Linked DNA regions of Homo sapiens. The protein of the gene in region 1 interacts with the protein of each later gene in a pairwise test. Each region holds a gene or a part of one and is shown on either strand. Other genes may lie near its edges.

Region 1 (7,845 bases):
TTTCAGTTTCTCCTGCCTGTTTTCTCCGCCTTCCTCTCAATCCCAGTCCCAGCCAGTGAGCCCCGGCCTGGAGACAGCTCACTGCTGACTGGGGAGGTCACAGCGCCCTGGGGCTTCCAGGCTGTCCTGGGCCCTCAATACACATGGCCCTCACACTCAGCATCTCACCTCCTACCTCAAAGGAACCAGGGGCCACCCATGCTTGGATACGCTCATCTTCCAGGCCACCTACCCACAAACGTGATGCCAAGTGGGCACACCCCTGCCCTGGAGCGCCCCAAGTCCCACCACTGACCCCGAGCCTTCACCTCCAGCCCATTCCCTCCCTCTCCCATCTTCAACCCCTCCTCCTCAACCGGCACTTTCCATCAAAGAGCTGGCGACGCTCATGTGTCTACTCGGCTTCACAGCTCCTTCTCCTTCACAGCAACTCACGTGATGTGTCACTTTTTCACCTCCCATCCTCTCCTTGAACCCCAAAATCTGACACCTGCCTGGTCATCCTGGGGGACCACCCACCCACGCTCTGGGCCCCAGAGCGGCTCCAGTGTGCCTTCCTCCTCCTCCTTGGACCTGAGCCCTGTCCACCCTGTGGCGGTGCCGACTACCTTCATCGAGTAGAAAGAGACCCTTTGCTTGCTTCCTTGACAAAACTGCAGGCCTTCTCCATGTCCAGGAATCCTCCGGCTCCAGCTCGGCTGCTCTCCCTGCCTCTATGGAGGTGGCTGGCCCTCTTCTCTGCTCAGTCTATGCACTCTTCCTGGGATTTTGACTCCAAACAAAGGGCTCTGATGATCACCCACAAGCAAATGACTCCCAGAGTGACTCCCTCAACACAGAACCTGCTCCCGGGCTCCAGAACTGGCCATGCAGCCAGCGCCTGGTGAGGCCGGGTGTGGTGGCGCACGCCTGTAATCTCAGCACTTTGGGAGGCCAAAGGATCGCTTGATGCCAGGAGTTAGAAACCAGCCTGGGCAGCATAGCCAAACCCCATCTCTACAAAAAATTAAAAAATAAGCCAGGCGTGGTTGCACATGCCTGTAGTCCCAGTTACTTGGGAGGCTGCGGTGGGAGGACTACATGGGCCCGGGAGGTTGAGGCTGCAGTGTGCAGCAAGCCGTGATCGCGCCACCACTCCAGCCTGAGTGACAAAGCAAGACTGTCTCCAAAAAAAAAAAAAAAGAAAGAAGGAAAAAAGAAATCACCCACTGGCCCTGTGGACACTGCAACTCAAAAAAAAAAAAAAATTCCCATCCAAGTCTGCTTCTCCTGCAGATTCTCTCTACGCAAATGGAACCGTCTATGCAGACATCCAAACCAGAAACCTAGAAGTTATTTTAAACCTCTTTCCTCGGCTGGACATAGTGGCTCACCCCTGCAATCCCAGCACTTTGGGAGGCTGAGGTGGGCTCATCACTTCAGGTCAGGAGTTCGAGACCAGCCTGACCAACGTGGTGAAACCATGTCTCTACTAAAAATACAAAAATTAGCAGGGTGTGGTGGCACATGCCTGTAATCCCAGCTACGCGGGAGGCTGAGGCACAAGAATCGCTTGAACCCGGGAGGTGGAGGTTGCAGCGAGCTGAGATCGCGCCATTGCATTCCAGCCTGGGCAACAGAGAGAGACCCTGTCTCAAAAACAAAAAACAAAAAACCTCTTTCCTCATTGCCTTATCAGCTGTTTGCCAGATTCTGATAATTTTGCATAATATATCTCTTTATTCATTAACCACCTGTTAAGCATAATAATAACAGCAGCAGCCCCAGTAGCTATCACTTGTTGGACACTTACTATGAGCCAGGCACGTGCTCAGCTCTTTGCAACACTTGAACCATTTAACCCTTACAACAGCTGTATGGGACAGTATCATCATCCCCAATTTACCAACATTCAGAGATTAAGAAATGTGTCCAAAGTTCACATAGCTAACAAGTGGCCAGGTCAGGAGTCAAAGAACTACCCAGCATCAAAAAGCATGACCTTGCCAGGCGCAGTGGCTCATGCCTGTTATCTCAGCACTTTGGGAGGCCAAGGTGGGTGGATTGTTTGAGCGCGGGAGTTCGAGGCCAGCCTGGGCAACATGGCAAAACCATGTTTCTACAAAAAAAATACAAAAATTAGCCAGGTGTAGTGGGACACACCTGTAGTCCCAGCTATTCAGGAGGCTGAGGCGCAAGGATTGCTTGAGCCCAGGAGCTCAAGGCTGCAGTGAGCTGTGTTTGTGCCACTGCACTCCAGCCTGGGTGACAGAGCAAGACCCTGTTTCAAAAAAAAAAAAAAAAAAAAAAAAACCCAAAACCAACCAAACAAAAAAAAATATGATTATGATCACTGTACTACTCTGTCTCCCCTCCAAATGCCAGGCAGTGCTCTAGGTTTTAGGGATGCCAAAGCTTACAGTCCAGTGGCAAACACAAATGATTAATGAAACAAACACAGTAAGTACAGCATGGAGTAGGCTAGGATACGGAAGTATAAAGTGCTGCAGAGCCCAGGACAGAAACACCCAACCTGGCCTTGGAGTAGTCAGGGAAGACTTCCCAGAAGAAGGTAAGTCTAGGTTAAGGCCTAACTGGTGAATGACCTGGCTAGGGGAGACAGCGGGGTATTTCAGACCTTGAGGCCAACATGAAAAAACTGATGGCTGGGAGACTGCGATGCCTTTGAAAAACTGAGAGGGCCAAGCGCAGTGGCTCATGCCTGTAATTCTAGCATTTTGGGGGGCCGAGGCGGGTGGATCACGAGGTCAGGAGATCAAGACCATCCTGGCTAACATGGTGAAACCCTGTCTCTACTAAAAATACAAAAGATAAGCTGGGTGTGGTGGCGGGCGCCTGTAGTCCCAGCTACTCCAGAAGCTGAGGCCAGAGAATGGTGTGAACCCGGGAGGCAGAGCTTGCAGTGAACCGAGATTGCGCCACTGCACTCCAGCCTGGGGGACAGAGCAAGACTCCGTCTCAAAAAGAAAAAAAAAGAAAGAAAGAAAAACTAAAAGGGCCAAGCGCAGTGGCTCATACTTGTAATCCTAGCATTTTGGAAGGCCGAGGCAGGAGGATCACATGAGCTCAGGAGTTCAAGACCAGCCTGGGCAACATAGTGAGACACCCATCTCAACAAAAAATATAAAAACTAGCCCAGCATGGTGGCCTGCACCCACCTGTAGTTCCACCTACTCAGGTGGCTGAGGTGGAAGAATCACTTGAGCATGGGAGGTTGAGGCTGCAGTGAGTTATATAGAACCACTGCATTCCAGCCTGGGTGACAGAGCAAGACTCTGTCTAAAAAAAAAAAGTCTTTGCTGGCTCTCCAGTGTTTCCCTACAGAGTTCAAACTCCTGGGCAGTGTGTATAATGCCTTTCAAAATGTAACCTTTCCCCAGCCTTCGATCCTTTCTTATTACTCTGTAAGATCCAAACTGTGAACTTGGCTTCCTAAGCGACTTGCTTTTTCTTGCTTCACTGCCTTTGCACGTGAGGTTCCCACTGAGAGAAACCCTAACTAGACTTTCAAGACTCAATTCAAGCTTTTTCATTTTTCCTTCAAGCTTTCACAGTCCCCTGCCTCCCAGAACCTGGGCTAGATGCCACGTCTCCCTGTTCCCAGGCGCTGTGCTTCCCTCTGCCATAGCACAAATCACAAATCACAGTAAAATACAGTGTTAGGTCTGCGTTTCTGCCCCCCTTCCAGAAAAAGCCAATGCTTGGATAAGAGGGGTCTTTCTCCTCTTCATCCCCAGCGCCCGGCTTGGAGCAGGCACCAATAAAACGTGAATGAAGGGTCAACGCCAGGACCCGAGGGCTGAGGAAGGGATTTACGAGGAATAGCTGGGGCCGGGCGCGGCAGCTCACGCCTGTAATCCCAGCACTTTGGAAGGCCCACGCAGGAGGATCGCTTTGAGGCCAAGAGTTGGAGACCAACCTGGGCAACATAGCGAGAGCCCGTCACCACATAACAAATTAAAAATTAACCAGGCGTGGGGCCTCATGCTTGCAGTTCCAGCCACTCCGGAGGCTGAGGTGGGAGGATGGTTTGATCCCAGGAAATCGAGGCTGCAGTGAGCTATGACTATGCCACTGCACTCCAGCCTAGGCGAAAGAGCGAGACCAAAAAAGAGGAATGACTAGGTAAGAAAATTCTAGGACTGACTTGGGAAGGGGAAGGGGGCGAACCGCGGGGGCTCACATACCCGAAGTTTTCTTCTCCACCATTGGCACAACACAACTGTCGGAAGAAACTGCTGCGCACGCGTACTAACCCCAAGGCTTTAGTAGGGGCGCCATCACTTCCGGTAGCTTGTACTTCTGCGCGTGCGCCACAGCTTTGACTCATTACGTGGCGTTTCCTTGGAGACAAGAAAGCTTTTCGCCATGTTTTATAGGGGCAAAACCACTTCCGGCCTCAGTGTGGAGGTGTAAATCTTGTGGGAGCCACGAAATGGGTCATTTTAAAGATGTGGTCACGGTGTTCTTACAAGAAATCTTATTTTCCTTTGGTCCTTGTGAAGATGCTGTGATCACAAAGGCAGCCCCTGGAGCTTCTCCGGGCAGAAGAGGAGGTGGGCTGGACTGTCAAAGAAAGTGGCTGGCTTCCGTGGGCAATCCGAGGTTCCTAGTGGCCCTCTGCAGAAAGCTGAACTCCCAGTTCCCCCAGGCCTCCGTCCCGCGGCGGACTCCTAGGCTTCCTCCCTCCCTGTCGCCGCCAGCCTCTCGCTCTCCCCGTCTTCCGCCCGCACTCTCTGGGCAGGGCTGCGGCCAGGACCCGCCCCCGCGTCCCGCCCGACCCTCCGCCAGGGGTCACTTCCCCTGTCCAGGTTTCAGCTTCCACATGTGTCAAGCGGCTGGCTCAGCCCAGAGTCCCTGTCTCCCGCCCGCCGGCCCGAGCCGCCGCCCCTCCCCCGCCTCCCGTGCGCCCGGGACAATCCTCGCCTTGTCTGTGGCGCCGGCATCTGGAGCTTTCTGTAGCCTCCGGATACGCCTTTTTTTCAGGGCGTAGCCCCAGCCAAGCTGCTCCCCGCGGCGGCCGCACAGCAGCCCGAGCGCCCCCTTTCCAGAGCTCCCCTCCGGAGCTGGGATCCAGGCGCGTAGCGGAGATCCCAGGATCCTGGGTGCTGTCTGGGCCCGCTCCCCACCATGACCTCCTCGGGGCCTGGACCCCGGTTCCTGCTGCTGCTGCCGCTGCTGCTGCCCCCTGCGGCCTCAGCCTCCGACCGGCCCCGGGGCCGAGACCCGGTCAACCCAGGTGAGATCCCGGGGAGGCCCGGCACGGCCGAGGGGGCAGAGGCTGGCGTGCCTGCCAGCCTGGCCCGGAGAGGGTCGGAGGCTCGAGGAGGTGTCTGGCCCGTCCCCCGCCCAGCGTGCTCTTGAGGCTGAGTCGCGCCAAGCCCCTCGCCCATCACTACCCTGAACTGGGGTTTCCAGCCTCCCTATGCAAAGGGACTCGGAATTCCTGGGCACCACTCCCACCCTGCCCTCCTTGGGGTCAGAGTGTTCCTGGGTGAGAAGAGTTTAAGAATGGGAAGGAAGAAAGGGAGGGAAGTCGAGTGAGAGGGAGGACAGCAAAGCACGTGAGGCCCGGAGCTGGGCGGTGGATCTCAAGTGCCATTTCCCTCTGGTAACAGAGAAGCTGCTGGTGATCACTGTGGCCACAGCTGAAACCGAGGGGTACCTGCGTTTCCTGCGCTCTGCGGAGTTCTTCAACTACACTGTGCGGGTGAGGAGAGGGAAAGGCCCCTGGGAGGGGGTCCCAGCAGGAGGGGTGGGCTGAAGTCTGGATGCCCAGGTCCCCACGGTAAGCCTGGTCAGGAGTTCCCCCCACAACTCCCCACCCCTTGCCTGGCACGGGGCAATCTTCTCCACAGACCCTGGGCCTGGGAGAGGAGTGGCGAGGGGGTGATGTGGCTCGAACAGTTGGTGGAGGACAGAAGGTCCGGTGGTTAAAGAAGGAAATGGAGAAATACGCTGACCGGGAGGATATGATCATCATGTTTGTGGATAGGTAACGGGGCTGGGGATAGGGAGCGGGGTAAGGATGCTGAGGTTCCCAGTGGACCCCTGCCCATCCTCCCCTTCCTCACCCAGCTACGACGTGATTCTGGCCGGCAGCCCCACAGAGCTGCTGAAGAAGTTCGTCCAGAGTGGCAGCCGCCTGCTCTTCTCTGCAGAGAGCTTCTGCTGGCCCGAGTGGGGGCTGGCGGAGCAGTACCCTGAGGTGGGCACGGGGAAGCGCTTCCTCAATTCTGGTGGTGAGTGGCAGAGTGCCCAAGGCAGAGGGGCCAAGAGCGGTGGGACACAGAGTGTTAAAGGCGCCTGAGGGCTGGAGACAGCCTGGGGGACAGGCCCTGGGACCCTGGGAGTCTCGAGGTCAACACTCCCCCTCCCCGCCAGGATTCATCGGTTTTGCCACCACCATCCACCAAATCGTGCGCCAGTGGAAGTACAAGGATGATGACGACGACCAGCTGTTCTACACACGGCTCTACCTGGACCCAGGACTGAGGGTAGGGAAGGCAGAGGAGTGGGCGCATCCCGCAGCTCTGTGGGAGTGGAGGCCTCAGGCTGAATGGGATTTGGGGAGCAAAGGGGGTTGCAAAGAGAAAAATGTGTGCCTGGGCGTGGTGGCTCACGCCTGTCATCCAAGACTTTTGGGAGGCTTAGGCAGGAGGATTGCTTGAGTCCAGGAATTTAAGACCAGCCTGGACAACATAGTTGAGACCTCATCTCTACAAAAAAAAAGAAAGAAAAAATTAGCCAGGCTTCATGGTGTACGCCTGTAATCCCAGCTACTTGGGAGGCTGAGGTGGGACCATCACTTGAGCCCAGGAGTTTGAGGATGTTTTGCACCACTGCATTCCAGCCTGGGTGACAGAATGAGACTCTGTCTCTCACAAAAAAAGGAAAACCATGGTGGCTCATGCCTATAATCCCAGCACTTTGGGAGGCTGAGGCGGGTGGATCACCTGAGATTGGGAGTTTGAGACCAGCCTGGCCAACATGGTGAAACCCCGTCTCTACTAAAAATACAAAAATTAGCCAGGCGTGGTGACACTCTCCTGTAGTCCCAGTTACTTGGAAGGCTGAAGCAAGAGAATCAATTAAACCGGGAGGCAGAGGTTGCAGTGAGCTGAGATCGTGCCATTGCACTCCAGCCTAAGCAACAAAAGCAAGAGAAGAAAAAAAGAGAGAGAAAAGTGAGAAATGATGTCCTTTCCACTCCTTCCATTTTAACCACTCCATCGCATCTCATTCCATTTAGGAGAAACTCAGCCTTAATCTGGATCATAAGTCTCGGATCTTTCAGAACCTCAACGGGGCTTTAGGTGAGGAGGAAGACAGCCGCAGGTGGGCGATGCGCAGCCTCTGCAGCTAGGGGTCTTGAGCTGGGAGAGGCTTCTGGAGGAGCTGGGCTGATCCAAGCCCACCTCTATGTGGTTTTGTCAGGCGTCTGAGTGGCTGGTTGTGTAAGTTGCACTGTGCTGATGGTACTACCAGAAGCAAGGGAAGCAAAAACGTGTCTGGCATCTGTTGCACACATGCTGTGCCTGGGCACCGGGCCAGGGACTTTTTTTTTTGAGACAGAGTTTCGCTCTGTTGCCCGGGCCGGAGTGCAGTGGTCCAATCTTGGCTCACTGCAGCCTCCACCTCCCGGGTTCAAGTGATTCTTCTGCCTCAGCCTCCCGAGTAGCTGGGATTACAGGCATGCGCCACCACGCCCAGCTCATTTTGTATTTTTAGTAGAGACAGGGTTTCACCATGGTGGCCAGGCTAGTCTCGAACTCCCAACCTCAGGTGATCCGCCTGCCTCAACCTCCCAAAGTGCTGGGATTACAGGCATGAGCCACTGTGCCC
Region 2 (7,022 bases), on another chromosome or scaffold:
ATGATGACCAAGTACTGGAAATAAACCGTGGTGATGGTTACACACATTGTGAATGTAAACAATGTCAATGAATTACACATTTAAAAAATGGTTAAAATAATAAATTTTGTTCCATCTTTTATCACAATAAAAAAAATACTGCAAAGCACTTGGCACAGTGTCCTACACACAGCAGGCTTGCCATAAATAATTAAAGCCTGAGTAGGGCTGGGCGCGGTGGCTCACGCCTGTAAAATCTGCACTATGGGAGGCTGAGGCGGATGGATTGCTTAAGCTCAGGAGTTCGAGACCAGCTTGGGCAACACAGTGAAACCCCATCTCTACTAAAATACAAAAAATTAGCCGGGCGTGGTGGCGTGTGCCTGTAGTCCCAGCTACTTGGGAGGCTGAGGCAGGAGAATTGCTTCAACCCGGGAGGCAGAGGTTGCAGTTAGCTGAGATCACACCACCACACTCCAGCCTGGGCGACAAAGTGAGACTCCTTCTCCAAGAAAAAAAAAAAGAAAAAAAAGCCTGACTAAAACATGTCCCCCATATTTCCTATGATTGTTCACCTCTGCAACACAGTGAGGTATTCTGTAATTGCATTATACACATTCCTGGGACAAAGCGAAGCGAAATACAGTACCTAGGGCATTGCACACGGCAAAGCTGGGGTTGTGTTAAGGCAAAGAGCATGAAGAGAGTAAAGACAGAGAAGAGAGAAGCAAACATGCAAAGGAGCAAGAGATTGACCAAAGCAGATGCAAAACAACTCCTGCAGTCAGAAGGTGCTGTGAAAAGAGGGTAAGAAGCACAAGCACCTCTTTCCCAATTCAATGTTCTTGGCATAGTTGCCATCATACAAAGAATTTTCTAAATCTTTCTTTTCCCTCTTATTTACCTCTGGCTCTTACATCTCAGTATGGCTTTCTTTTGCCTGATATCCCCTCCTTGCCCTAACATCAACTTTCTCTCTCAGCATCTCTTTCACTGTTCTCTCTTGGCCATACCAAAAAATAGATGCAAGTTGAATGCACCTGCCTGTATTATGCTTAATACTTAATGTAATATTATAGCTTAAGATCTTATATGACTTATTCAAAATACACTAACTTGAATTGTCGTCTACTTCCATATGATTGACTTGGTTTTTCTGTGGGTCTATTGTCTTCCGATGAAAATAAAGGCCACCTGCCATGTTTTAAAGCTGTGCTGTCCAGTGTGGAAGCCACTAGCTTCATGAGTCTATTTAAATTTTAATCTATTAAAATTAAAAGTTAAAATGCAGTTCAGTCACACTAGCCACATTTCAAGTGCTCAACTGCCACACTGGCTAATTGTTACCATATTGAATAGCACAAATTTCCATCATCTCAGTAGTTCTATTAGACAGTGCCATTTTAAAGAGCAGAAAAAAAAAAATGAAGAAAAAAAAACACAACTATTTTAATTCTATTAGGCTTTCCCATGACATAGGAACCCAAAGTAACAAACTGATGAAATACAACTCAAGACCTGTTTGTTGTTTTATTTAGAGGGTTGGGATGTTGCCATCTTCTGTTTCTTCCCCACTGAAGTCAAATGTGACCAGATGATAGAAAAAAACCACACATACTGCTTGGCAAGGACTATTTTCAAGGCAATCAAAGTACAACAGGTATTTCCTTGTAGGCTGTAAAACTACTAAGGAGCACAGTCTAGGTATAAATTGAATTCAACTTTTATTGCCACTTAAATCAATCCTAATAAGGTATCAAAAACAATTTACCGTATCACTAAATATTTTCTAATCTGGCTGTCTGCCTGGATCCTAAAGGTCCAATAAAAAAAATTAATTTGCAAAAAGTTGTTATGAATTCTGTGAATAGAGGTGACCAATTATCCCTTGGTAAAGCTGATAAGCAGCACTAAAGAAGTACATTCCTGAGCTGTTCTACTAATAACCGCCATAGGTTCAAATGGTACATTACCTGGCTTACAGCAGGTCTTTGACAAATATTTCTTGAATGTTGAGTGTTGAAGTAGGACACACCTTTTTTGTGTGACAGTCATATTCATTTAAGTCTCTTACACTGTCATTAGGGTAAAAAAATACACAGTATAAATGCAATTCTAAAGCAGTCTGGGCATGGTGGCTCAAGCCTGTAATGCCGGCACTTTTTGGGAGGCCAAGGTGGGTGGATCACCTGAGGTCAGGAGTTCAAGACCAGCCTGGCCAACATGGTAAAACCGTGCCACCACGCCCAGCTAATTTTTGTATTTTTAGTAGAGACGGGGTTTCACCATGTTGGCCAGGAGGGTGTCAATCTCTTGACCTCGTGATCCAACCGCCTCAGCCTCCCAAGTGCTGGGATTACAGGCATGAGCCACCACACCCTGCTAAGTTTTTTGCTTTATTTTGTTTGTTTTCCAAATTTGTTACAATGAACCTATATTACTTTTGTAATAAGGGGGGAAGTTTTAATTTATTTTAAGGTCTCCATAGCTCCAGATACTAGTTCTATAAATAAAATTATTTTAGCAGTTTGCAATCAGGCAGTTAACAATTTCCTTTAAGTGAAATAACCAAAGGGTGGTCAATTAGAGAAAACAGAATTAAAATTAATACGAAGAATCTTATAGTTCTAGAAATTTGAAAATTTCCCTTAAGTTGGGCCAATATACTTGTTTTCACTTGGAGGGCTATTCTTGACGTTTGTTTTCCAACTAATCATTCGCACATACTAACAATACCATACAAATAAAAAGGAGTTATGTTGCAATACTAATATTCAAATATGCAAAAACTCTGTATTTTAAACTAATTAGAAACCAGGTTTTAAAATATATATATCAACATAAATTTGTCATACATATGGAAAAGATGATTAAGTTACGGAGAAAGTTGCAAACAGACTGGCACATGCATTCTTCTTTATATAACTCTTTTGAGAAAGAGGAGCAATAAAAATCTTGTATATCATGGACATAAGCTCCAGTTAGTATATACTAAGATTGTTTTTGTCCTCATACTGAGCCAAATAAATCATAAAATGATAGTGCTTACAAAGGTCATTTACTTTGTATGTGTTATCTCCACCATGTGGCCTGATGTTTCCATGTCACTGGGATTATCTACCTTAACAACTTAGGCCCTAAGAATAGAAGCATTTTACATTTATTGAGAAGCATGTCTATTAAAGTTCATGATGTCTGTATTATACTACTTTTCAGAGTCAATTATTTTTAAATTTCAGATCCCATGACAAGTGAAAGCTGCCTATGAGTTGGAGAGTAAATGGAACACCATGCCTAGTACGATTGGCTAGTTTTAATTTACCTTTAAACACCATTTTCAAATTGTAACCTGTATTATTTAAATTTAAAAATTAAAACCTGCACATGCATGTAAAATATTTTTTTCTTTTATACCCACAAGATTTATTACATAATACACAATAAATACACAAGTATTTGTGTATTTGAATTCAACTTTTATTGCCACTTTAATCAATCCTAATAAAGTATCAAAAACAATTTACCATATCACTAAATATTTTCTAATCTGGCTGTCTGCCTGGATCCTAAAGGTCCAATAAAAAAATTAATTTGCAAAAAGTTGTTATGATAAATACACAAGTATTTATTGTGCATTATGTAATATACAATACACATAAATTGTTGAATTTATGCAGGCTGATTTACCCAACAAAACCACTAATCACCACTAGTAACTAAATACAGAACTCAATTTTCTCTACCTATACTTTTAGTCAAATACATTTTAAATATTTACATGATCTTATTCTTTAAAAGATGAGATAATTTAAAAAAAAGATGAGATAATTAACTCTAAGGTGAAAAAAGAAAATTTTAAAATGGAAAATACTGGTAATATCAAGTGTTGGAGTGGATGTGGACCAATAGGGAAGATTTATGCAATGGTGGTGGGAATATAAATTACTGCAATGACTTTGAAAAACAATCTGGCATTATTTTGCAAAACTGAATATTTACATATTCTAACACCCAATAATTACAACTATGTGTCTATACCTTAGAGTGGTGGTTCTCAAATGTGTGATCCTGTCACCTGCAGCATCTGAACCACATTTCACCTGCAAATTAAAAATGTACATTCCTACCCCACCCCAGACCTACTGAATATTAATCTTTGGGGATGAAGTCCAGCAGTTTTCTCAAGTCCTCCTCCTCCTCCAAGTGACTCTGATGCATGCTAAAGTTTGATTAACTACCTCCCTAGAAAAATGCTTGCTGCTGTGTGCCAGGATACATATACAGAAATATTCATGACAGCACTGTCAATTTAACAACAAAATATAAAGAAAATAAACAACCTAATGTCCACTGACAGGAATATCATGGTAGTATTTGTATAACATGTACTTTAATAAAGCAGTAAAAATGAATAAATTATCACTATGTCAGATATTATGGTTGGAAGAGAATTATATTGAACGAAAAAAGCAAGGACTGGCCTGGCATGATGGCTCATGCCTGTAGTCGCAGCACCTTGGGAGACTGAGGAAGGAGGACTGCTTGAGGCCAGGAGTTTGAGACCAGTCTGGGCAATATAGGAAGACATTGTCTCCACAAAAAACTATATACAGTATAATATCAATTTGAGATACCGTATGTCCCGAAGCTGATTTTTTAAAAATGTAACTTAGTGGCTAGGCAGAGTGGCTCACGCCTGTAATCCCAGTACTTTGGGCGGCTGAGGCGGGCAGATCAGGAGGTCAGCCGAGACCAGCCTGACCAACATGGTGAAACCCCATCTCTACTAAAAATACAAAAATTAGCTGGGAGTGGTGGCACGTGCCTGTAATTCCAGCTACTCAGGAGGCTGAGGCAGGAGAATCGCTTGAACCCAGGAGGCAGAGGTTGCAGTGAGCCAAGATCGCGCCACTGCACTCTAGCCTGGGTGACAGTGCGAGACTCTGTCTCAAAAAAAAAAAGGTGAGGGCCGGGCACGGTGGCTCAAGCCTGTAATTCCAGCACTTTGGGAGGCTGAGGCTGGCGGATCACGAAGTCAGGAGTTTGAGACCAGCCTGGCCAATATGGTGAAACCCTGTCTCTACTAAAAACACAAAAATAGCCAGGTATGGTGGCGGGCGCCTGTAATCCCACCTACTTGGGAGGCTGAGGCAGGAGAATTGCTTGAACCCGGGAGGCGGAGGTTGTATTGAGCCAGAGATCATGCCACTGCACTCCAACCTGGGCGACAGAGTGAGACTCCGACTCAAAAAAAAAAAAAAAAGGTAATTTAGTTATGCATATATATGTGACAAAACTATTTAAAAACACACGGCAAAGAGAAAAACAAAACAGGAGTACAGGAACGTGGATAAACACATTATGTTATTGATAACATGCTACTTCTTGGGTTATCTGGCAGATTTACAGATGTTTGCTATATTATGTTCCTCTTTTTATGTATATTCTTTATTGTATTCTTTTCTATGTATCAAATATATTAAGAAATGTTCAAGCTTAAAAAGTGGGCCCTCACTAGGTTCTTATTAATGTTTAGCCTTCAGAGGCAGAGGTTCAGATAAATTTTCACCTTTCTCCAACTCTAACAACGTAATGGATTCAAACCTGGATACTTACTACTAACAACATATTTCTTTTTCATTCTTTGTTGTTGTTGTTGTTTTAGAGATGGGATCTCACTATGTTGCCCAGGCTGGTCTTGAACTCCTGAACTCAAGCAATCCTCCCATCTCAGCCTCTCAAAGTGCTGGGATTACAGGCATGAGCCATTGTGCCTGCCCCCAACATGTTTCTGACCTAATACCAAAACCTGAAGAAAAGTTATTTCTTGGACCAAGAATGAAAACACGGTACAGAATGAAAGTATTTCCTACCCTGTTTGCCATGTTTGGCATGATGCCACATACTCAGAAGGCATTTACTAAGTGTTCACTGAATGAATGAATGAATGAATGATGAATTAATCAGTATACAAAAGGCCTAGGACTTGCACAGCTCATTATTGAATATTCTGAAGTAAAAAAAGCACTCTGTGTTCAAGACGTATAGAAACTCTGCACTGACATTAAGTTGCTCAGAAGCCACACACTGCATGCAGATGTGCAAGTCCCCATTTCAATTTCCTTAATGCCAACTCTTACAGGGAATATTAAAAAGAATAACGAAAATGTTGAGGCACATGGAAAAAGGATGACAGGTACAAACAACATAACTGACTCTTTCGGAGCAGTTTTAAAAAACAAAAACAAAAAAAACCCTCAAAATTTAAACCAAAGATTCCAGTGATTAGAACTAAGGCCTTCAAATGTTTCTGACCACACACCCCATTGGTAACATACTTTTGGGCATGTACTCAAACATCTGTATATTTATGTATTTATGAACTACATTCCACTGTTAGAAAGTACATGTTTTCCCAAATGATGAGGACTTTCAGTGACTCAGACTATGAATTAGCCACTAAGAATCTCCTAAATATTTATCATTAAATTTAGTGAAATTCTGCCAAATACAGGATTGACTTTAAACATTAAAATAAGCCGGGCATGGTGGCTCACGCCTGTAATCCTAGCACTTTGGGAAGCCAAGGCAGGTGGATCACATGAGGTCAAGAGTTCAGGATCAGCCTGGCCAACATGGTGAAAACCGTCTCTACTAAAAATACAAAAATTAGCAGGGCATGGTGGCAAGCCCCTGTAATCCCAGCTAAGCAAGAGGCTGAGTTAGGAGAATCGCTTGAACCTGGGGGGCAGAGGTTGCAGTGAGCTGAGATCACGCCACTTCACTCCAGCCTGGGTGGAAGAGCAAAACTCCGTCTCAAAAAATAATAATAATAAATAATAAATAAATAAATAAAAGTAAAAAACAAACAAAAACCAAAAAATCAGAAAAGAAAAAAATCTGAAGCCATTTGTCTTCATGCACTAGAACTTATTTCTAAATATCTTGCTAACTAGGATGACTCATCCTATCAATGGCTAATATTTCAAAGAATAACATACACTTAGGGAGAGGCTGATTATTAATAGCAATTAATAAATAGG
Region 3 (7,022 bases), on another chromosome or scaffold:
CAAGCAATGTACTATCTTAAGCAGATAGTAGGTTCTTATTTGCTTAAAAGTCCAATATGACAATGTTTGCCTTTTGGGATGTTTAGATTATTTACATTTGATACCATTATTGATATGGCTGGATCTGGGCCTGTCATCTTTCTACTTGTTTTGTAATGGTCCCATCTGTTCTTTGTTTCCTTTTATTCTCTTTTTCTATTTTCTTTCTTTTCTTTTTTTTCTTTTGTTTGAGACAGAGTCACTGTGTCACCCAGGCTGGAGTGCAATGGTATGATCTCGGCTCATTGCAATTTCTGCTTTCTGGGTTCAAGCGATTCTTGTGTCCAGCCTCCCACGTAGCTGGGATTATAGGCACACACCACCATGCCTGGCACATTTTTTGTATTTTTAGTAGAGATGGAGTTTCATCATGTTGGCCAGGCTGGTCTCGAACTCTTGGCCTCGAGTGATCTGCCCACCTCAGCTTCTCAAAGGGCTGGGATTACATGCATGAGCCACCGTGCCTGGCTCTTTTTTTTCCTATTTTCCATAGGATTAATGGTGTGTAAATATCAGGCATCGTTCTTTTCAGTCTTTCCAAATGATCCTTTCTCTGGCCTTGGTTAGTTTTCCCACACCCATGTACTGATCTGTATTTTGTTGAATACTCTAAAGGGACCTTCTGCTGATAATTGAGATTCCATCTCTATGCAGCCCTCTCCTCTCTGGCATTCTGTCCTATAAACTCAAGCTGCCTTGGTCTCTTCAGACTCTACAAGGAAATATGCCAGGTTCTGCCTCAGTTCCCCCTTCCTGTGTTGCAGCCTGGAAATTCCTCAGGGTAGTAGCTTAGGGAATTATAGGGCTCACTTCTTTTCTTTCCTGTTTCTCAGGGATTGTTGTCGTTTTTTGCATGATATCTTGAAAATTGTTTTATATAATTTGTCTGGTTATTTTGTTTCAGGCAGGAGGGGAAATCCAGCCCCTGTGATTCCACCTAGATAAGAACTGGAAGTTTTCCCTTAGCATTTTTTTTTTTTTGAGACAGTCCCACTGTCACCCATGCCAGAGTACAGTAGCACGATCACGGCTCACTGTAGCCTCAACCTCCCCTAGGCTCAGGTGATCCTCCCACCTCAGTCTCCCGAGTAGCTGGGAGCACCACCTTGCATGGCTAATTTTTGCATATTTTGTAGAGACGGGGTTTCACCATGTTGCCCAGGCTGGTCTCGAACTTCTGAGCTGAAGCAATCTTCTCACCTTGGCCTCCCAAGGGGCTGGGATTACAGGTGTAATCTGTAATCCCTGCATTTTCAAAAACATTACCCTTTTACTTTTGGTGTTTAGTCTGTTGCCATCTCGACTTCCCAGTCTTCGTGTGTGTTGTTTTTCCTTCTCTGAAAGCCTGTAGGATCTGTTGTGTATTCTCATTTTTCTGAGATGTCTCAGTTACATGCCTATGTGTAGATATTTTTCATTCATTGTCCTAAATACTTTGTTGGTCCTTCCTTCTCTATGTTGCTTTTAAGGAGATAGAATATTTTACCAAGTTATAAACAACAGTGCACATTTACAAAATCCTTAGCTCATCCTTAGTTCTGTGGTGTGAATTGGGCCCCTTTTTGTTTGCTTCCCCTTCTGCCAGAAGTTGAGTTTCATCTTTGTCTGCTTTTCTAGTCTAGTTATCATTCATTCTCTTTCTGCCTTCTAAAATTCTGTTTATACCTCTAGTTGGCTTTGATTCTTCTCTCTCTCTCTTTTTTTTGAGACAGGGTCTCACTCTGTCACCCAGGCTGGCGTACAGTGGTGCAAACACAGCTCACTGCAGCCTCGACCTCCCCGAGCTCAGGTGATCCTCCCATCTCAACCTCCCAGGTAGCTGGGACTACAGGCATGCACCACCACACTTGGCGAATTTTTGTATTTTTTGTAGAGACGGGATTTCACCCTGTTGGCAACATCGCCAGGCTGGTCTCAAGCCATCCGCCTGCCTTGGCCTCCCAAAGTGCTAGGATTACAGGCGTGAGCCACTGTGCCCAGCCTGCTTTGACTCTTCTCTTGGGCTATTATGTTACTATCACTTTAATGGGGTTAGGGAGAGAGTGAAGATCAGTACAAAAGTGTTATTCACTGTGTTTATACAGATGTCCCCTGTGCATGTGCACACAAAACCCACACTGGGGAAAGGAGCCCAGAGGAACAGATGGGCACACAGAGCAGGGCACAGTGGAGGCAAGCAGAGATCAGCAGATGAAAATAGAGCTGTTTGCTGGGGATGACCACAAAGGGGTGCAATGACCCTTGGACTCCCCTGTTGGTGCGGGCAAAGATGGCTGAGGGCTGGCCTCATGGTGGAGTGCTGGATAACTGTCCTTGGCAATACCACTAGACCCAGTAGATCTCTGCCCCACTACTTAGCCTGATCCTCTGCCCTCACACAGGGTTTGAGCAGGAACTTGTTGTTTTAGGAACCAGTGACCTTTGAGGATGTGGCTGTGTACTTCACCCAGAATGAATGGGCCAGCCTGGACTCTGTGCAGAGGGCCCTGTACAGGGAAGTGATGCTGGAGAATTATGCAAATGTGGCTTCCCTGGGTAAGACATTTCTTCTTGTTTTTGGCCTCTGCCCTTTAAGCATCCTGGCTTCTTTATTCCTTAGAACTTTGTGGGGTTTTTTTCTTTTTTTCTTTTTTTTTTGAGACAAGAGTCTCCCTCTGTCGCCCAGGCTGGAGTGCAATGGCGCAATCTCGGCTCACTACAACCTCCACCTCCCAGGTTCAAGCGATTCTTCTGCCTCAGCCTCCAAAGTAGCTGGGATTACAGGTGGGCGCCACCACACCCGGCTAATTATTGTATTTTTAGTAGAGATGGGGTTTCTCCATGTTGGCCAGGCTGGTCTCGAACTCCTGGCCTCAAGCGATCCTCCTGCCTCAGCCTCCCAAAGTGCTGGGAAGACATGTGTGAGCCACCGCTCCTGGCAGGAGAACTTTGTGGGGTTTCTAATAACTCTCTGTTGCCCTGAAGGCTGAGCTGCCTGGAAGTTTCTGGGTGGAGAGAGCCCTGCGTTCCCAGGTTTTGAAATCACCTGTCCCTCCAACCCTGGGAGGGGCTGTACCCAAAACATGGGGGGGAAAGGAGCTCTTGGGAGCACAGCAAAGCCCCTTGTGTCTTCCAAGTTCTCTGAAGAAAACTTGAGATTCCCTTATGTGAGCGTGGGATTATTCTGGGACTCTGTGCCACTTTGTGGGAAATTTCTGTCCTCCAGCAGCATAGATTAAGTTTCTCCCTGACTCACCTTGTCTCTCACTACCTGGCTCAGCAGATAAAGATAAAGGGGGCTGCAAGAGGATCCTGGTTCCTGATTCCCCTTACCTTTTCCTGTTTCTTTCTCCCTGGGCAGCATTCCCATTCACCACGCCTGTTCTGGTCTCCCAGCTGGAGCAAGGGGAACTGCCATGGGGCCTCGATCCCTGGGAACCTATGGGCAGGGAGGCTCTCAGAGGTATCTGTCCAGGTGAGCATGAGAACCCACTAGCTGCCTTTTTGGCTTGGCTTGCTTTCTTGTTTTCACATTTCATTGTGCAAGAAGTGTTTCTTCTCTTGGGAGACTGTTTTTGTTCCTGTGGAATCATTACATGTGATTCTCTGAGTTCATGGTGGTAGCCTACCTCAACTGGGGAAGGGCCAGTCTCTTTTAAGACAGGAATGACTGTAAGATTTCTTTGCATATTCGTCTTTGCCTGTCCTCCTCACAACCTGCCAAGGGAGACTGTCTGATTGGGCAGCACTTAAACCAGCTCATTTCTTCTCTGTCACATGAAAACATTTTATTTTTCTGCCAGTTTGTTTTTGCAAAGATGAGGATGTCAGCCACCTTTGGAGGAAAATAGGCTTCTGGCAACATGGCTGGCCATCTGCATATCATAGGCTACATTGTTTAAGCACTGACTTAAAGAATAAAAAGTTTGTTTTTATAATGGAAATTTTCAAATATATGCAAACACCAGCATAATGCACTCCATGTATCCTTCATCCAGCTTCAACAGTCACAAATATCCTTTGATTCTTATTTCATCTTTCCCCCACAGATACTTAAAAAAATTTCTGAAGCAAAATTTATTGTAAATTAAAGGTGAATAACTTTCTCACTTCGATGGCTATTGATATAAGAATTAAAAATAGGCTGGGCATGGTGGCTCATACCTGTAATCTCAGCATTTTGGGAGGCTGAGGCAGGTGGATCACTTGAGGCCAGGAGTTCAAGACCAGCTTGGCCAACATGACGAAACCCCGTCTCAACTAAAAAAAAAAAAAAATATATATATATATATATATATATATATATATATATATGGCCAGGTGTGGTGGTTCATGCCTGTAATCCCAGCACTTTGGGAGACCGAGGTGGGTGGATCACCTGAGGTCAGGAGTTCGAGACCAGCCTGGCCAACATGGTGAAACTCCATCGCTACTAAAAATACAAAATATTAGCATGGACGTGGTAGCACGTGCCTGTAATCCTAGCTACTCAGGAGGCGGAGGCAGGAGAATCGGTTGAACCTGGGGAGTGGAGGTCGTAGTGAGCTGAGATCATACCATTGCACTCCAGCCTGTGGGCAGCAAGCCACCCAGGTGCCAAGGCAAGAGACTGAGGGCACAAGCTGTTCCAGTATAATAAAGAAAATATATAGAATAAGAATAATTATGCTAGAAATAGATTATAGATATGATTATATATTAATATTATTAATCATTAGTTTGTAGCATTACTCTTTATTCCAATATTATAATAATCTCTGTTCTACAATTATAACCTAGGAAAAACCAGGCCATACAGAGATAGGAGCTGAAGGGACACTGTGAGAAGTGACCAGAAGACAAGAGTGTGAGCACTCTGTCAAGCCGGGACAGGGCCACCAGAGGGCTCCTTGGTCTAGCGGTAATGCCAGTGCCTGGGAGGGCACCCCTTACTTAGCAGACCTTGGTCTAGCGGTAGCGCCAGTGCCTGGGAAGGCACCCGTTACTTAGCAGACCGGGAAAGGGAGTCTCCCTTTCCCCGGGGGAGTTAGAGAAGACTGCTCCACCACCTCTTGTGGAAGGCCTGACATCAGTCAGGCCCACCCGCAGCCATCCGGAGGCCTAACCATCTCCCTGTTGATGCTGTGCTTCAGTGGTCACGCTCCTGGTCCACTTTCATGTTCTGCCCTGTACACCTGGCTCTGCCTTCTAGAAGAAATAATGATGTAAGCTGTCCCCTCTCTCTCTCCGCCTCGGCTACCAAATAGGGAAGGGCCCCCTGTCTGGTGGACATGTGACTCGTGTGACCTTACCTATCATTGGAGATGACTCTCACTCCATACCCTGCCCCTTTGCCTTGTACATAATCAATAACAGCACGGCCAGGCATTCAGGGCCACTACCAGTCTCCGCATCTTGGTGGTAGTGGTTCCCTGGGCCCAGCTGTCTTTTCTTCTATCTCTTTGTCTTGTGTCTTTATTTCTACCATCTCTCGTCTCTGCACATGAGGAGAAAAACCCAGAGGCCCAGTAGGGCTGGACCCTACACCAGCCTGAGTGACAGAGCGAGACTCTGTCTCAAAAAAAACCCAAAAACATCAAAAATTAGCTGGGTATGGTGGTGTGCACCTGTAGTACCAGCTCCTGGGGAGGCTGAAGCATGAGAATCACTTGAACCCAGGAGGTGGAGGTTGCAGTGAGCCAAGATTGCACCACCACACTCCAGCCTGGGTGACACAGCGAGACTCTATCTCAAAAATAAATAAATACATAAAACATAGTATATTTTTTAATCTTTCTTATTCTGCTTCACCCATTCTCTGCCTGTGAAAATTTTCTGTGCTCTTCTGCAGAGAATGCCCATTACTGATCCACCCCCAAGTCTTGAGTTTAAGTTGTACCTTTCTGGATGTGACCTCAGGACCCTACGTCATCTGAGTAAAAATATTTTCTGAACAATTTTTTGTGAATGCATGCAGGCTGAAGATTTTACTTAGTCTGCAAAAGGTTTTGATAGTGGAGGGAATATTTCTCTTTGGTTTTCCCTTATTATCATGTGAGTTTAGTAGTTCACTTTTCAAACTGTTGTATTAAACAAATGCACAACCTATGAGACCTTTTAGGAAAAATGGCAAGCATCGTTACCAGGCCCTCTTTGGGACTTACATTCACTCTTGGAAGAGTTCTTCACATTTCCAGTGCTTTTTGGTTTTAAAGGCAAGCCTCCAAACCTTCCTTTCTCCTGGATGCTGTGGTGGTTGCCATGCATGGCATCCTCAACCACTGCATGGGAGCCTGCTGCTTTACTAGAGCCAGCTTGATGGTAGAGATCAGCTCTCTTTTCAAGGTTATGACATGCATGATGTCTTTTAACAAGCATCTCTTAAGGAATCTCAGCCTGTGGGACCTGTTGTAGTGCTTGAACTGCTCAGCCTGCCCCTTCTCTAATCTTGGGAGTCTTCCTCTCACTTATGGATTTCCATTTGTTACTTTTTTTATGTTTGCATCTTTATCCACCTCATTCATTTTTCTCTTAGTCTTTCTGCCCTAATTAACAGTCTTTGCAGTTTTCTGGTTTTCACACTGTTTATGGGAATGCCTCCTGGCCTTGCTTCCCTCCCGTCTCATAGAGTTTTCATGTCCCTTGCAGGGCTCTGTTGTGTGGTGATCTTAGGCAGCCATCTTGTGAGCATATTAGAAAATATCCATATATTCAGGGCAAATTAGAACCACTTGATTCTGTTTCTTCTTCAGCACAGATATTGTGTGTGTGTGTGTGTGTGTGTGTGTGTGTGTGTGTGTGATATCAGGGACTGACATTTGTATTTTCTTTTTGTGATAGGGGATGAGGCCAGAACTGAGAAGGAAGGATTAACTCCAAAGGATCATGTGTCCAAAGAAACAGAGTCCTTCAGACTGATGGTGGGGGGCCTGCCAGGGAATGTTTCCCAGCACCTTGACTTTGGGAGCAGCCTAGAGCAGCCACAAGGTCATTGGATAATTAAGACAAAGTCAAAGAGGAGACAT

What was found. The genes of interacting proteins can lie anywhere in the genome.
Region 2: the proteins of PLOD3 (region 1) and KCTD9 interact in binary tests that used the Homo sapiens proteins (3 or more experiments, as listed by UniProt).
Region 3: the proteins of PLOD3 (region 1) and ZNF620 interact in binary tests that used the Homo sapiens proteins (3 or more experiments, as listed by UniProt).

What each region holds. Positions count from the first base shown.
Region 1 is NC_000007.14:101,214,560-101,222,404, reverse strand, and holds the start of PLOD3 (multifunctional procollagen lysine hydroxylase and glycosyltransferase LH3 precursor), read left to right. Parts: upstream 1-4,823; 5' UTR 4,824-5,130; coding exon 5,131-5,239; intron 5,240-5,618; coding exon 5,619-5,710; intron 5,711-5,858; coding exon 5,859-5,995; intron 5,996-6,078; coding exon 6,079-6,242; intron 6,243-6,384; coding exon 6,385-6,497; intron 6,498-7,252; coding exon 7,253-7,316; intron 7,317-7,845. Other genes in the region: ZNHIT1 (zinc finger HIT domain-containing protein 1), read right to left, coding at 3,920-3,986. UniProt on the Homo sapiens protein: Multifunctional enzyme that catalyzes a series of essential post-translational modifications on Lys residues in procollagen. Plays a redundant role in catalyzing the formation of hydroxylysine residues in -Xaa-Lys-Gly- sequences in collagens.
Region 2 is NC_000008.11:25,448,428-25,455,449, forward strand, and holds part of KCTD9 (BTB/POZ domain-containing protein KCTD9), read right to left. Parts: intron 5,149-7,022; exon of another isoform or gene 5,117-5,148; intron 2,055-5,116; exon of another isoform or gene 1,953-2,054; intron 1,244-1,952; exon of another isoform or gene 1,096-1,243; intron 1-1,095. UniProt on the Homo sapiens protein: Substrate-specific adapter of a BCR (BTB-CUL3-RBX1) E3 ubiquitin-protein ligase complex, which mediates the ubiquitination of target proteins, leading to their degradation by the proteasome.
Region 3 is NC_000003.12:40,509,023-40,516,044, forward strand, and holds part of ZNF620 (zinc finger protein 620), read left to right. Parts: intron 1-2,447; coding exon 2,448-2,574; intron 2,575-3,379; coding exon 3,380-3,493; intron 3,494-6,837; coding exon 6,838-7,022. UniProt on the Homo sapiens protein: May be involved in transcriptional regulation.